2 separate regions of the Homo sapiens genome follow, and region 2 is linked to region 1. Evidence: fine-mapped expression QTL. Tissue or cell type: monocytes after LPS. Region 1 holds a variant in brackets; the other region holds the start of a gene. All regions are shown on one strand. Distances are from middle to middle.

Region 1 (8,265 bases):
TTTTTCTATCAAGCACACTGAACTATCTATGGCGAAACCATCTAAATGTTTGAAAGAGATTTTCCACCATCTTCAGAATTCTAGGATCAAGCCAGTGAGAAAGAAAAGAGAATAGACGACGTCTCCCTTCCTGTTTAAACATAGTGAGCACCTTAGTATGGAAAGATTTTCCCATTATCTTCTTTCAAAAATGTGTCAGCATGGTTTGGGGGAGGGTGGGACGACAGGGCAAGTGGGAGAGCTGTTATTGGACCTCAGGGGAGAAGGCAAGGGAACAAAGATCGAGAAACCTTGCTCCATAAATGCTGTCCTGTCATCTGACACCACAGCGCAAGGAATGCTACTAACACCTCCGTCCAAAGGAGGAAAGAATAGAGTCCGAAAGAGATCTGAAAAGAAGGCGGATAATTCAGCTCAACCGACTTGTTTTTTGACACGTAGCCTTGAAAAGAACAATTTTACCTCAGAAACTTGGCAAATACAAAGTGATATTTTTTGATAGGTTATAACATGCATTTTACTAAATGCATGAAGAGAGGGCGAGGGAAAAAAAGGCCAGGTATCTGAAGACAGGAAAGTTGTCAGGTTTCTCGTTTCTGTGTCATTTTTGTTTAGTCGGTCAAATGAAAATTCAAAACCATATAATTAGATGGTTGTTTATACATGATTAAGCATGAGCTCATTGGACTCTACATGCCAAAAAGTCAGAGATGTGGTTAAGGGCAAGAAGGAACTATTAATAAAAGGAAATAAAGCTGTAATACATTTTTCACTTATGAATAAAAATAACTCAAAGGTCTCTAGATGGAAAAAGAGAAACAAAATCAACCATGAGTAGGGGCAAGAAACCAGATAATTTTATAAATGGTTAGAATTCAATAAAACATAAGCCACTGGTATGAAAAGGCTTTTTTTCCTCCTCCATGATTCTAATCCTATTTTTTGCTTCTCGTAAACATAACTCACAATGAGAACATAACAAAACTTACCTGTATTATATTTCTTTAGAACTGTTCTGGGAAATATTTAAGCAAGAACATGCTGTTTATTTACAAGAGTTACTTGTTCTTCATAACTGTCTTCACCAGTAATCCTCTCCGGAAAAACCAATAGCTGTCAGCTCCCTTGGAAAAGGCAGTGTCCTTTTGTTTTTAACAACTGCAGAATTTTCTTCCCATAGCGAAGTGAGCCCATTGAAAGCAAGGCTTAACTGACCATAACCTTCATAAAGGTAAGGCAGATGCTCCCAGATCCCCCACAGGATCTGTGATTTTAGACTTGGGCTCTGAAAACTGGTGAATCAACTGCTCATAGACCAAACACCACACTATGGATGAGGTCAGTGGGCAAGTCTTTGGGATGGCAGAGAAAATAAACTGATCCAGGATCAGCCTACTTACTCCTTGTTAGGTAAGGTTTTTAAGCCAATACTACAACGTCCCACTACTGGGAAAATACATCAATACAGGGTACCTCTGGAGAACACGCTGGTAAATGAAAAACTACACCCAAAGGTGGTTCAATTGTGTGTGTTATTTTCTATAAGCAAACATATCTTTAGGTTGCCAAGGCTAGTACCTTTTGCACACAACTGCTGTGATACATATAGTACAACCAATTGATTGGAACAACATGATCTAAAACCAAAAATGACCAAAGCCCACAGGATATCGCAACACACAGTTCTTAAGAATGAGGCTAAAATGAATCTAATAACATTCAAAAAGCCCATAATGCCTAAGAGGCATGAACACCGACTTTTACAGCCCGACTCTGAGAGCAGTCTCCAAGTCACATCAGTGCCCTCTGTCAGAGGGACCTAACATCTCAAACTTCCCTCTCTTTCCTCTCCCTTCCTCCCCTTCTCTTCCTGCCAGCTTCCCTCCTCCCTTTGTTCCCCCTCCCTCCCTCACTTTCTCCCTTTCTCTCCCTCTCTCTCCTTTAGTATCAGCCAGTTCTGACTCCCAGAGAGAGTAATCTTCTCTGGGAAGTGCATACCCGCTCAGTAGAATTTAAACAATATACTTCATTTAAGCCTGTATGATAAACTACAAAATATAGAAATTCCTAAAAAGGTCATTTCCAAGAAACTAACATGACAAAAAAGTACAAATCTGAAAAGGCATGGACAATTGAGACAAAGCACAACATTCATAACTAATTTGGCAATTTTAACCTATAAAACCTATATATTATCTACATGTCTTACATGAGATAGGTACTTTGTTCTAAAGATACTTTTTAATTATTGACCTGATTTTGTCAAATTCAGTTCTTAACATATTCATTTAGTGCAAGAAGCTACCCAAAGCTGGGAGGAAAGTGCACTTTCATGAAACAAAGTCTTTATGCACCAGAACTTTATGGATTTGTGTCTTTAATGTTGAAGGAAGGGGGGACACCTTACTAACTTAATAAATATCGATTATTTGAAACCGTTGAATATCTACTATAGTTCTAGATAAGAAATTTGATAATTTATTCCTAAACAATGTGTGGCATGTAACTCAAAACTATTTTTCATCAATAATTAGTATTAATAATTAACAAGGGTAAACAACAAAAATACCTTTTGGAAATATTTCAACTTGGCCCTTTCCTCATTCCACAGGCTGCCTATTGCCAGTCTTTACCCTCAATTTAGGGTTAATGACTAAACTGTCCTCATCTCTGACATGCAACACTACTCAGCAGCAATCTTCCCAAGTATGTGCTCACAAATACATAAGATTGAAAAGAATAAAAGTCTTATCAAAGTCACTGGAATCTGGCGAACTGATTTTTAAATTAGCAACTGCAGTTACGATCCACTCAGCAGTGAATTAGATTTTTCAGCAGTAGGGACAGAACCCTGAATAAACTTCATCTCAAACGCCTATTCTCCATCCTAAATATGCAATTTATGTCTTTAATGCAAGAATTAGCCTACTAATAAAAATTAAACAGTTCTCTAGATAAACACAGCAAAGAGGAAGGATGCTACAAGAGCTATTCATTTAAAACAGGCCAGAACCAATGTACTGGATTTTATTTGACACTCATTCTGAAGAGTATTACGTTCGACTTTTAAAAACTATCTTGCTATTATTTCTCAATTTGATTGTCCCAAAGCATCTTTAGAGTCAAATGCACTAGATCTTATACCAAATTAAAGGCATTTCACCGTATGCCTCTAATTTTCTAGCCACCCTGACCTAGCACCTGACATTTAGAAATTTAAGCCCACTGCAATTAATCTCCTCTGGCCATTCATTTCTTCCCCAAATTGAACATTATGCAGGCAATATCCTAAGAAGTTCTGAAAGTTCAACGTCATACTATATTTTAATTTCTTACAGCAAATACAAATTCTAAAATTCCTAGTCCTCTTCCTTCACGTACCTCCATTCTATTATTGGAATTTCAATAATGGAATTTCAATTTGGAATTTCTTAACAAATTTCTTACCATTATTCTTCCTGAAAAATGATCAAAATCATCAGCAAAAGCATCTCATGCTTAAATTATTCATGTTCTCAGGCTGTTTGGCCACTGACATTTTAAAGTGTTAGAAGTAAGAAGTCCTTGCACTGCGGGGCTTCCATATGCAGTGTCTGCTTGTGTACCTGTGTGGGTATAGATTGTTTATATCTTGCCCTTGGCTGGGGGCCTCAGACAGCTGTGCAGAGTACTTGGCATACATTTCCAGGGCTACTTGCTCTTTGGTTTTATAAAATGCAGGCAGCAGGAACATTCAGGAACTGCCAGGACATTCAGCAAAGGCTGGAGTGCAGAGAGGAAAGCATCTGACAAATGCAGAGTAAGAAACAATGACTCCCTTCAAGGGGAACTGCTGGTGAAGTCAGCCAGCGCTGGCCAGCGCGAACAATACTTGGGCAGGTCATTAACTTGCCTGGGTCAGAGCAGGTGGGTGAACTCACCCACCCACCTTTCTGGAAGCAAAGTTTCACTTGCTGAGTTCATACCAAAAAAAAAAAAAAAATTATAACATTCTAATGGCTAAACTAGGGATGTGTCTGAAAATAGCTAACTCTGCAAACCCTGCAGAAGACATCCAGGGAATTCACAAAGGTAAGTCAACTTACTGTCGGCTGTTTCATTTTGCACACATCTCTATAATAGCTACGTATGTATTATGTTGAAAATAAGCAAACACATTAGCAAACCAGGATTTTTTGAAGTGAGGTGGTTACCACTGTATTATGTTTCTCCCTCTCCTTTTTTTTCTTTTGCATAGGAAAGAGTAAGTTACTGGTTAACTACACAAAGGAGTTAACATTTAACTTGAACACCAGGAATGCTTGAGCTCTTAATCCCTCCCCCCTTTTTCTTATTATAGCAAAAATAGCTTCAGGAAAACTCTTACTAATTATTGCTGATTCTAGATGAGATCTGGCTACATCGGTTTCCTTGCTACACTCACAGGAGTTTGATTTCAGCCTGAATTCACCACTATGGTTCTTTCAGACATACTCCACTCCAGGCAGCCTGAAATCCCTGGTCACCACATCCCCACGTCCCCATACTCTCCATATTTCCATCCTCAAAGATCAGCTCAAATGCTACCTCCTCCTTGAAAGAAACCTTCCATATTCCTTCCTCCAATGCCAGGTTTACAGTGCTCTATTCCTCCTCTAAACTCCCACATAGTTATTCATTTGTCTTTTGTGCTGTGGATCAATTCTACCTCATGTATCTATATCTCACCTTTCCCCCTAAACTGGCAGGCCCATGAGGACAGGGACTGTACCTAATCCACCTGGACCCCTACCCATCACCCCAGAATATTAGGCCTCAGCTTCCTAATGCCTATGAACAGGTAATGCCCACACCATACCTGTAGCAAGTTTTAGTAAAGAACTTCTTT[G/C]CACAGGTAGGTGGAGAGAGGGCTACAAGGAGGGTGGGATTGTATAATTTAAAATAAGGGGAAAAATAAAAATAAAATAAACAGAGAAATTGCTGAGAAGCCTGGAGTGGGGGTAACGTGGCCAGAGCTGCCACTTTGTTGTCCTGGCCATTCCTAACCCATTCTCCTCTCTCCTCCACAGGCTGACTCCACACCTCACTGCACACAAAGCTCGTCCCTATCAACAGAACCTTTTCCAAACTGTTTGACTTCTCACCTTTCCCATGAAGCCCTCCGTGGAAACAAGATTATAACAAACCTCTGTCTCCTCTCCAAATACTCCAAAGGAGGTGCAGAGTTTACCTAGCTATCAACATGGTGATCATGCTTCCTCACCAAGAACTTGTACTATTACAGCTGCTACTACTACTGCTACTAAGAATAATAATGATAGTGATTCATCTATACATTAAAAATGAAGTGAAAGTTAAAGTAAGCTTAATGGAAGGCTTACTTGGTGCCAGAGGAGGATGCCTAGCTCTATTCCCAGATTAACTCATTTAGCTCCCACAACAACCTTGATTATTACCATCCCATTTCACAGGGGAGGAAAACTAAGGCTTGAAGACCATATTAACCTGCTAAGAGTGAGTATTCAAACCCCAGCTAGCCCAACTCAAAAAACACACACAGATGGCTATGAGTTCATTCATATTCCCTTAACCATCACCTCCCACATAACTGGACAAATACTCCTAGATGGAGAGAACACAGGACAATTGTCATTCTTCTCCCAAAGCTGGAACTCACACTCACGCGGAGCCTCCAACCTCTTGGTTTCCATATATAAGCAATAGTCAGGCATGACACCTTAATTTATTCTGTGTAGGTACCATAAATGGTGTCAGGCATGCAAGTACAAATAGATGACACTAGTCTAACCTTTAAAGCAGTGGTTAAGTGTCTATTACATAACCCCTTTTACTTTCAGGAATTTTTGATGCATAACATGAAATTCATTTGTTATCTCACTCATTCAGGAGTTAAAAACTGCATGGTAGGAGCAGGTGAAACAGAGATCAAGAGAATCACAGCACAAAATAATGTCTGGTAAAATAAGGTAGGATAAAAAAGCTACTGAGACACAGAGAAGGAGATGACGATGATGATAATGATGGTGATATTTAGAAACAAGATATGAAGTATCTTATCTGCACTTGCATATATCTTACTACAAAAGGGATTTACTAACTTTTTATTCACGAAGAGTCTTGAATGCGCACAGTTCATACGGATATATGTTAGGAATATAAGAACATAATGCACGTGCGGGTGCACGCATGCACACATAAACACACACACACAGATGAGCACAAAGATAATTTCACAGTGAATCTGGTACAATAAAAGGTAAAGAAGAGCTTCCCCAGAGAAGCAACCTCCCATACAGACCCAAAGCTTTTATAGGGCCCCTTTCTACTAGAAACCAACCTACCTTAAAAACAACAAAAATAAAGCTGAAAGGGGGTCTTTTCTAAAATTCTGCCTCAGTAGCCCAAACTTTGATCTTACACAACTGGACTGACCTAAAAGCAGAGTCCAACCAGCCACTGACTGTCCTCTGCTTTTACTAACCAATAAAAATATTCACATAAGGAGGAGGAAAACGTAAATTTGTAGGTAGATGGGGCCAGCCATATGGAGGCAAGAGGAATCTATGCCAGGGCAAAGTCGCAGGCCAGGAGGCCAAGTTCAGTCTGTGGCAAGCTCAGCCAAATCACCACATTCAGCCTGGTAAGATCACATACCATCTAGCACACAGCCTGGCACAAACCAAATGCTCAGAAAATATCGATTCCTCTTCCCATCTGCAAATCACATCAGAAAACCTTTACTCTCTCATATCTTAAAAGACTATCTTTAAACCAGAATAGATGATGAAACAATTTCAAGGGTTTCCCTCATAAGAAAAAGATGTATCTCTGCCCCCACCATGCTTTGAATTCATAGATTTAGATGCCAAGAAGGAAGATTAGAAATCATGTGTCCAACCTCCTTATTTTATAAATTGTAAAATTCAAGTCCAGAGATGTAAAGTGACTTTCACCCGGTCACACAGCTAGTTAATGGCAGCATCAGGACAAAAATCCAAGTACTTGGGCACCCAACTAAACCCACTTTCTAATGTATCCTACTACTTTTTTGGGGCTGTCAGTTATAAATGGTGCTTAATGATGCAAATACCTCTGAGGCAGTTAAAAATGTCTTTTGCCTTCAAAATAGAGTGAAGATGGCAGATGATCGACTCCTACACAATGAGCATTGGGTTGGGGACAGGAGCGTCCATGAAGAGATGAAGAGCTGAAGGAAAAAAAGGGGTAAGCACAGAGGAGGAGATCAGGATGAAAAGCGACATAGAGATGCCTACTTAACAACTGTGCCTAGAGATCGACTCTGTTTCAGTCCACAGGTTGAATCTGAAAACGCCACCAGAGACTTCTCTCTTCCAAGTGTCTTTGAGCCTAGAAGATACAAAAGCCTGCATTCTCCCAGATCAGACAAAATGTATGACTCTTCAGGAGAAAAAAGAAATCAGATTGTTACATTTTTAAAAAGAGGTTCAGTTTGAGTTTGCCTCTATCTCCTCAAACTATATGTTTTAGCAGAAACACAGCTAAACCACAGGTTTTATTAGAACTAGTGCCTGCTTATTCATCCACCAAATGTAAATCTGCCACTGAACCAACATTCAGACTGCTCAGGGAGAGCAAGCACCTTGCTTAGAAAGGGGGAAAGTCTAATTTAAGCATATGGAACTTGACAGCATAATTTTTTTAAAGATTCTCTTCTCAAAGAAAGTTTACAAGCAGTAAGTGGGGCTCTAAGGCTATTATTTCTTGGCAAAATAACTGCAGAACAATTGTCCAGTTCACAGTTTTGCACTGAGGGGATTTCTTTGGATTGTGGCCTTTCTTCATCTTTGTTCTAAGGAAAAAATCTGCCTTCAGGAGTCCTAAACAATGAAAGCGCTCTTCATTATGTCTATGAGTTTGGATAGAGTCCTGTGGCACAGAGACCATGCCTGGTAATGAAGCATAATAATCATCTGTTCCTAGTTAAACATACTCATACCTTCCACAGCAGGAGAGAACCTTTGGAAGGCGACAGAATGAAGGGCATTTGAGGTTGAGACCCTCAGTCCTCCTTGGGCTCAACTCTTACCCAAAGGACTCTCATAAAAAAGAATGAGAAGACATAAAAACATCACGTAAAATTCAATGTTATTCAACAAATATTTATGGGATCTCCAGTTTGCACAGGTCTTGTATGAAAAAACCAGAACCTCAAACCCTCCCAGTCTCATATCTCACCTAGACAACAAACAAGTAACACAATATTTTTCTACGGCCATTCAAACC
Region 2 (8,000 bases), 150 kb after region 1:
AACTTCAGTGGAATCAGGGGATCAACGATGCTGTCCCCAAACTGGCCTAAGGTGAACCAAGGGGAGAAGTTAACAGCAGCACTTAAATTGATCTACTCATACTCAAGGATTACTGAGTCTTCTGGGCAAGAAAAGAAAGCAATTACAAACTACCAATAAGGACAGGTGTTTTGAAAATAGCGAAAAAAAAATGTCCCCTACACTTCCTTTCAAAGGTAGCCTCAGAGCTAGTCTGGCTGCGCAGATGACCAGTGAAAATAAATGAAAACTGCAGTACGGTTATAGATGATCCTTACACCTCAGCTTGTTCTCAATTGCAAAAAAAAAAAAAAAAAAAAAAAATGCATATAATCTAACACTCTCCTGTCTAAATTGCTTCAAACTTTCTCAGAACGACCTTCATCGTGGCGGATTCTTTTTCTGCAAACCTTTACAGGTTGCACCTGCTTCACACAGAACCAGCGGAAACAAACTAGGAGGAGATAAAAGAGAAGAAGTAGGAAGGTTTAAACCAACACAAGTCGATTTTGTACCCAAAAAAAAAAAAAAGTTTAGTCTAAAAAGGGAGGTCCAGTGAGGAACAAGACAGAGGGTGAAACAGAAGTCTGGCTTACTCCCAAGGCAGAAATCATGACTCATCAAAGCTTTCAGAGGGGACAGAACCAGACTTTGCATTTGTCTTGAGGTCATCTTCGAGCCAAGAAATGCTCTCTTAACCGGGACCTGAGAACTTTAAGGGTCTGCGACAACTGGCTGTGAGGCCTTGGGCAAAACCTCTAACGTCTCTGGGGCTCGGTTTCCTCATCAGGTGAAGCCAGGGTCCACTCTAGCTTTAATAGTCTCTCCTCGAGATTCCCGGCCCCATACTAAAGGGACCTGGTCCACTGGGGGGAGCTGCAGAACTTCCCTCTTCTCACAAACTCCAGGGCCCTGGGGCCCCAACTCTCGGGAGATGCTGAAGTCTTGGAGGAAGTTGGTTCTGCCGGCTCGGGGAGAGGGTGCAAGAGCAACCCTCTTTGTGAAACGGGGCCGCGACTCCACGAGTCCTGTCTCTACGGACCCTACTCCCTGTGATTCCGGAAGCACCTCCCTACCCCTTCCCCAGGTTTACATGCTCCAGAGATGAGGGCCAAGCGGATACCGGGGCAAACTAGCGTGGGGCTCAAGGAGGCACACAGAGCAGTGGTCTCAGTCCTCGAGACCACTCCTGCCAAGAGGAGGGCTGGAGAAGTCGGGAGAGGTGCCGGGAGCGGGGGAGAGGCGCGTAGGACAAGGCAGGAGGAGGGCGGCCCTTATCGGTTCCCTATAGGACTGGCTTCGCTGCCGGGGTCGGAGATTCCTCGGCGCGGAGCTAGGGGCGGGTCCGGAGGCGGAGGCGACAGCGCCCGGCGGGGTACGCGCGGCTGCGACCCCGTCACTCCCCCGCCGCCTCCGCCCCTAACCCTCGGCCCCGTGCGCGAGCGAGCGAGGGAGCGAACGCAGCGCAACAAAACAAACTAGTGCCGGCTTCCTGTTGTGCAACTCGCTCCTGAGTGAGTCGGGGGCCGAAAGGGTGCTGCGGCTGGGAAGCCCGGGCGCCGGGGACCTGCGCGCGCTGCCCGGCCTGGCCGGAGCCTGTAGCCCGGGGGCGCCACGGCCGGGCTCGCAGTCCCCCCACGCCGGCCCCCCGGTCCCCGCCGAGCCAGTGTCCTCACCCTGTGGTTTCCTTTCGCTTCTCGCCTCCCAAACACCTCCAGCAAGTCGGAGGGCGCGAACGCGGAGCCAGAAACCCTTCCCCAAAGTTTCTCCCGCCAGGTACCTAATTGAATCATCCATAGGATGACAAATCAGCCAGGGCCAAGATTTCCAGACACTTGAGTGACTTCCCGGTCCCCGAGGTGACTTGTCAGCTCCAGTGAGTAACTTGGAACTGTCGCTCGGGGCAAGGTGTGTGTCTAGGAGAGAGCCGGCGGCTCACTCACGCTTTCCAGAGAGCGACCCGGGCCGACTTCAAAATACACACAGGGTCATTTATAGGGACTGGAGCCGCGCGCAGGACAACGTCTCCGAGACTGAGACATTTTCCAAACAGTGCTGACATTTTGTCGGGCCCCATAAAAAATGTAAACGCGAGGTGACGAACCCGGCGGGGAGGGTTCGTGTCTGGCTGTGTCTGCGTCCTGGCGGCGTGGGAGGTTATAGTTCCAGACCTGGCGGCTGCGGATCGCCGGGCCGGTACCCGCGAGGAGTGTAGGTACCCTCAGCCCGACCACCTCCCGCAATCATGGGGACACCGGCTTGGATGAGACACAGGCGTGGAAAACAGCCTTCGTGAAACTCCACAAACACGTGGAACTTGAAAAGACAACTACAGCCCCGCGTGTGCGCGAGAGACCTCACGTCACCCCATCAGTTCCCACTTCGCCAAAGTTTCCCTTCAGTGGGGACTCCAGAGTGGTGCGCCCCATGCCCGTGCGTCCTGTAACGTGCCCTGATTGTGTACCCCTCTGCCCGCTCTACTTGAAATGAAAACACAAAAACTGTTCCGAATTAGCGCAACTTTAAAGCCCCGTTATCTGTCTTCTACACTGGGCGCTCTTAGGCCACTGACAGAAACATGGTTTGAACCCTAATTGTTGCTATCAGTCTCAGTCAGCGCAGGTCTCTCAGTGACCTGTGACGCCGGGAGTTGAGGTGCGCGTATCCTTAAACCCGCGCGAACGCCACCGGCTCAGCGTAGAAAACTATTTGTAATCCCTAGTTTGCGTCTCTGAGCTTTAACTCCCCCACACTCTCAAGCGCCCGGTTTCTCCTCGTCTCTCGCCTGCGAGCAAAGTTCCTATGGCATCCACTTACCAGGTAACCGGGATTTCCACAACAAAGCCCGGCGTGCGGGTCCCTTCCCCCGGCCGGCCAGCGCGAGTGACAGCGGGCGGCCGGCGCTGGCGAGGAGTAACTTGGGGCTCCAGCCCTTCAGAGCGCTCCGCGGGCTGTGCCTCCTTCGGAAATGAAAACCCCCATCCAAACGGGGGGACGGAGCGCGGAAACCCGGCCCAAGTGCCGTGTGTGCGCGCGCGTCTGCGAGGGCAGCGGCGGCAGGGGGAGGAGGAGGCAGAGGCGGGGTGGCTGGACCCTCGGCATCAGCTCATTCTCCCCTGCTACACACATACACACACAAATAATGTTTCTAAAAAGTTCAGTTGCGACTTTGTGCCTCGCCTGTCCTGTTCATCCTCGTCCTGGGCCGGGGAATGCTTCTGGGGGCCGACCCCGGGATGCTGGCTAATTGCTGCCGGCGGGTTCCGTCGCCGGTGTGACCCTGGACGGCGCGGACGGCGTACAGGGGGTCCCGGGAGGGGCAGTGGCCGCGGCACTCGCCGCCGGTGCCCGTGCGCGCCGCGCTCTGGGCTGCCCGGGCGGCGCAGTGTGGACGCGGCTGCAGGGAGAGGGGAAGGGGGAAGAGGGAGGGAGGAAGGCAGCCGGGCGAGGAGTGTGGATGTGTGTGCGGCCGCGAGGGCCGGCCTGTAGCCAGCTGCTTCCTGAGTGTGAGCGCCGGAGGGGGAGGGGGAAGAGTGGGGGCGGGCTCGCGGGTCACTAGGCTGGCCAATTCGAAGGCCGAGCTTGTGTCTCCCTCTTGACGCATTCACACACACACACACACACACACACACACACACACACACTCCCCGTGCGCCAGAAGTCGAGGAACTCCAGAACAGGGTAACAGCAGGGAGACACTTCGCCTTCTTCCTGGCCTTATTTGTTAAACTGACTTATTTTAACATGAAAAAGTGTTAGTGTTTAGACAGGATTTGATGTCAGGTCATAAAAAAATAAACAAACAACCAAAAAAATCCGGTAGTAATACGGAGAGAATAACACAGTGAAAAATGGCAAAAGGGTTGCTTTGAAATATCGGATCGGATGCACATGACAGCTTCGAAACTGGATAGGTGAAGCACTAAGGAAGGCTTTGGCATCCTTTCCAAGTATAGGCAGGGAAGAGAGGAAGGTGATGGAAGTGTTAGAAGGGTATAAAATTCTGAACACAGGCTGTTAAGAATGGAGGTATATTCCCTGCGTATGTTACGTCTATAAAGTGGCACTTTATCCTTATGAATTCAACATCCTCAGCCTCATACCCCACCTAAGCTCTGACTCGCCACCGCTTCTGCTTGTGTTGACCAGAGCCCTCAAAAGGTTGTTACAAGAAAGTCTGCTCCTAGTAGTTCATCACATGTATTGCCACAGATGCAAGGACTTCCATCTTGGGAATCTAGGTATGTAATGCACACAATATCCTCCAGGTAGGCCTTTCTGCAGTTGACAGTATTATTCACCATCATGAATGAAATGAGTGAGGATGCCACCAGACACTTAGAATTTCACAAGTCCTTATATTCTATTCTACTGTTACCACTCCAATATAAATTAGCAATCAGGTAGTAGATGCTTTGATCAAGACAGAAGTCCTCAAGGACACAAATGACTTACCCCAGAAAGCCAAAACTAAAAGACTATTGGCAGTTTTCATTTATCTAATTTCAGTGGGAATACTACTAGGCTTGGTCTGTATCCATGATATTAACATAACCAAAAGAAGCCTGGTTTCCACAGTACTTTTTCTTTTCTTTTCCTTCACCTTGGGACACAAACTCATCAGAATATTTGTCAGCAGAAGTAGGGGATGAAAAATAGTAAGAGGTCAGGATATGTCATTCTGTCAGTTTTCCAGTTTCTCTCTGTTCATCTCTTTTAAATACAAGTATTCAAGCCCAAGATGGCAATAGATGGGCTCAACCACACGTAAGAAAAGAAAATACTCATAAAATGAAGCATGCAGCAACATCACAAAAACAAAGAAACCAAGTGGTGGAAATTGCCATGACTATTCCATTGTGGCTAGTTATTGCAACATGCCTGACATTCACATAAAAACTCTTCCTCATTAACTCCAGCCTTAAGGAACAGAGCAAGATGGCAACACTAACCCTTCAATGCATCATGGGAACTTCTGTTCATCAGATTCTTGTGCTGTACAACTGCTTCCCAGGAGCAAGACAAGCCTGGGTGGAGACTGCAAAAAACCTTTCCAATGTCCCTCAAATATCATTTTAAATACAATGGTTTTGATGCATAGAATGGTATCCTAGGGGCTTGCAGAAGCTTCTAAAACTTCCCAAATGATGGGAACAGCTTAGCTGGAAGAGAAAAAAATATAGTGCTACACCCAACTTTAATCAATAGCTCATGGAAAAAAACACTGGGAAAGTTAGGAGTCATCAACCTGGAGATCCCCAAAATCTCTTCATTTATAAGAGCCCAAGAGTGGGAATGTCATTTTATTTAGGTGTGATTTTCATGAACCTCTAACATTCCTAAAATATTTACCACTGAAGAGGTATAGTGCTTTGGTTGAATTTTTTTCTTTTTTTTTTTTTCTGGCCAAGAATGTAGATCTGCAATGTTCTTATATTCCATGGGTTATAGTAAAAATGCAGTTGTTCTTGTACCAGTACAACCCTGGAATGACTCAGAATGAGATCTGTACCTCTTCTGGGCTGAATTGGTCAGCAGGGGTGAGGGAGGGTGGTAATGAGAGACAGTGAGAAAGGAAATCATGTAGTTCCAAAATGATACTCTCCCTTACCCATGAGCTCTCCATCGTGCTTAGGAATCATACTCTGGCAGCCCTTCAGCCAGATAGGTGGGAACTGCAGCCCAGTCAGTATCTTCCCTCTCTAGAGACCAGTGTTGTATGTGCCTCAACCGCTGACTCAGGGCAGCTGACTCAGCAGACAGGCCCCTGCTGCCAGCTCCAGTCCAGTTCTCATTCATCAGAGAAATATTCAGTGAGTACACACTCTGTCCAAGTATTGGGACTAAAGGAATTAACACTTGTAGGCATTGTATATGGGAGGATATTACAGAAAACTTTTTGCCCAGTGTCTTAGTTGTAGCAAACCCTCAAGAAATGGGGACTCTTTGCATATATTACCTCATCTAATTCTCAAATCAAATGTATGATGTGGCTATGAATAATCTCCTACTTAGAAGCAAAGAAGTTGAAGCTCAGTAAACAGTTAAAGAGAGTCAGAGACAGAGCCAAGTATGCCAGTTTAGAAGCCCCAAGTTCAATCAACATTACTGTACTACAGAATAATTGTGCATGCTCTTTGAATGTGTATAAAACATATTGCAGGTGTATAAAGTGCAAAGCATCTTGTGGTCAGTGTTAGATGAGCACAATGAAGTTTGTAGGGAGTGTGGAGGAGGCAGGAATAATTTCCTGCAATGTGACATGGAGTAGCTTGGCTGTTTGAGCTGGACTTCAAAGAATGAGTAGAGAAGTGATAAGCAAAGGAGACCATTTCAAGTATAGGAATCAGCATCAAAAGGGGCACAGAAGGCATAAGTCCTGCATAGCAAGCAGCTCACTCAAAGCTAGAGTACAAAATAGGAACATCCACTGTCTCACAGCAATGAAACTCTCCCGAAGGAACATCCTGACAGCAAAACTTCAGAACTGCTATTTGAGTCACCCTGAGTGCTCTGACAGTAAACCACTTACAAACTTGCAAAGAACTATGATCAGATTCCTCCTCCCACAAAGTGTCCGTGAAAAGAAACAAATTTGAACCCCAAAATACAGATAAGTTGAGCTAATAGCACCAGTGATAGTATGCCTAGCTATTAAAACACAGACACACACACACACACACACACGAGCTGGCAACAGTCCAGTTACGTAGAAATGCAGTGGAAAAAGTTAGTGTTTGCCAACTTTAAGGGGGGAACTAAATGTGTAAAATGGAAAATTTCCATTTTACTTTCCTGAGTAGTACAAATAGTGGAATGCAGCAAATTTCACATTATGTTATCAGTGTGTGATATACTAAGAAAACTTAAGCTGATTTTTCTACTAATTTGTCACAAGTATGTTCAGCCCAAACTCTTCGGCTCACATACATGTCAGTGATGTAATTTTTTAAAAAATTCTTATTTACACATATCGCATTCACAACATCATACCTCTTTTCCTTTCTAAAGTCAAAACTGTAAATCAGAGTCTAAAATGTGTCAGACCAAATGCAACTGACCAAAATTTCAAATATTTCACTCCATACAATATCTCTCAATCTTGTCTAATTGGTGAAATGTTTCTTCCTTTTTTATACAAACCAAGCTGAGATGTATCTAAAATTCAGAGAAAGGTTGATGATGTATTCCTTGACATATTACTTAGGTATATCTACAAAGAGCTTACCATAACAAACATAAATTCATAGATAAATACAATATTCCGCAGGCAGCCAGTTATTCTTTCACCATTTAACATCTATACTGGCCAACTATATGTGATGTTGTAAAATTAATTATCTAATCACAATGCCATCTTATCTATAACTACCTTCTATAAATGCCTCTTAATGACCATAACTTACTTTTCTTCATATGCCTTTCATGGCCTAGCAATAGTACTGGGCACTAGTAAGTAACTAATGCTAATCTGATAAATGGATTAATTAATGAGAGAATGAAAGAATGGTTTCTTCACCTTCAGAGATGATAAATGACACAACTCATTGTTATGTATGTGTATAATCATTTCAGTGTTCCAAAAGAGACTAACAGATGCTCTTTGAATGTGTGCAAACCACACTGCAAGTATACAAAGTACAAGGCGTCTTGTTATCAATGTCAGATGAGCACAGTTAGTGTGTAGGGAGTGTGAAGGAGGCAGGAATAATTTCCTACAATGTGATATGAAGTAGCTTTCTGTACCCCTAGGCTTTTTATTATAAACTGAAGATTTAAATATTGCTTCCTATTTCTTGAGGAAGAAAATTCAAAGACTTTATGCAATGCTTAGAATAAGGAGGAGAGCCTGTCTGCGCCCTGCTCCAGTGACCCTCTCCTGTCTGACACCCACTACTAAACCAGGTCAGTTGCATCATACCCTGAATTCTAGCCTCAAAATAAAAATATATACTAAATAATGGGGAGAAAAGGGAAGAAAA

Which allele goes with the higher level. Alleles are on the strand shown, and positions count from the first base shown. SD is a standard deviation of normalised expression in the study named.
For the expression in monocytes after LPS of the gene that starts at base 3,483 in region 2, allele C in region 1 goes with a lower level than allele G (moderate effect, 0.46 SD a copy in Fairfax 2014).

What was found. PIP is the estimated chance that this variant, and not a neighbour inherited with it, causes the effect.
Region 2: it holds the start of GLIS3, and the variant in region 1 is fine-mapped to the expression of GLIS3 in monocytes after LPS (Fairfax 2014, PIP 0.95).

Annotation. Positions count from the first base shown.
Region 1 is chr9:4,143,850-4,152,114 of GRCh38, forward strand. All of the region lies in intron 2 of GLIS3 (GLIS family zinc finger 3), which reads right to left. Among named protein-coding and RNA genes, the nearest start is that of GLIS3-AS2, 150 kb to the right of the region's middle. The variant G/C (reference allele first, on the strand shown) is at 4,868.
Region 2 is chr9:4,296,586-4,304,585 of GRCh38, forward strand. GLIS3 (GLIS family zinc finger 3) reads right to left here and starts at 3,483. Exons shown (of 11, transcript NM_001042413.2): 1 at 2,836-3,483. GLIS3-AS2 (GLIS3 antisense RNA 2) reads left to right here and starts at 2,716. Exons shown (of 4, transcript NR_186824.1): 1 at 2,716-2,838. RefSeq lists an enhancer at 484-778.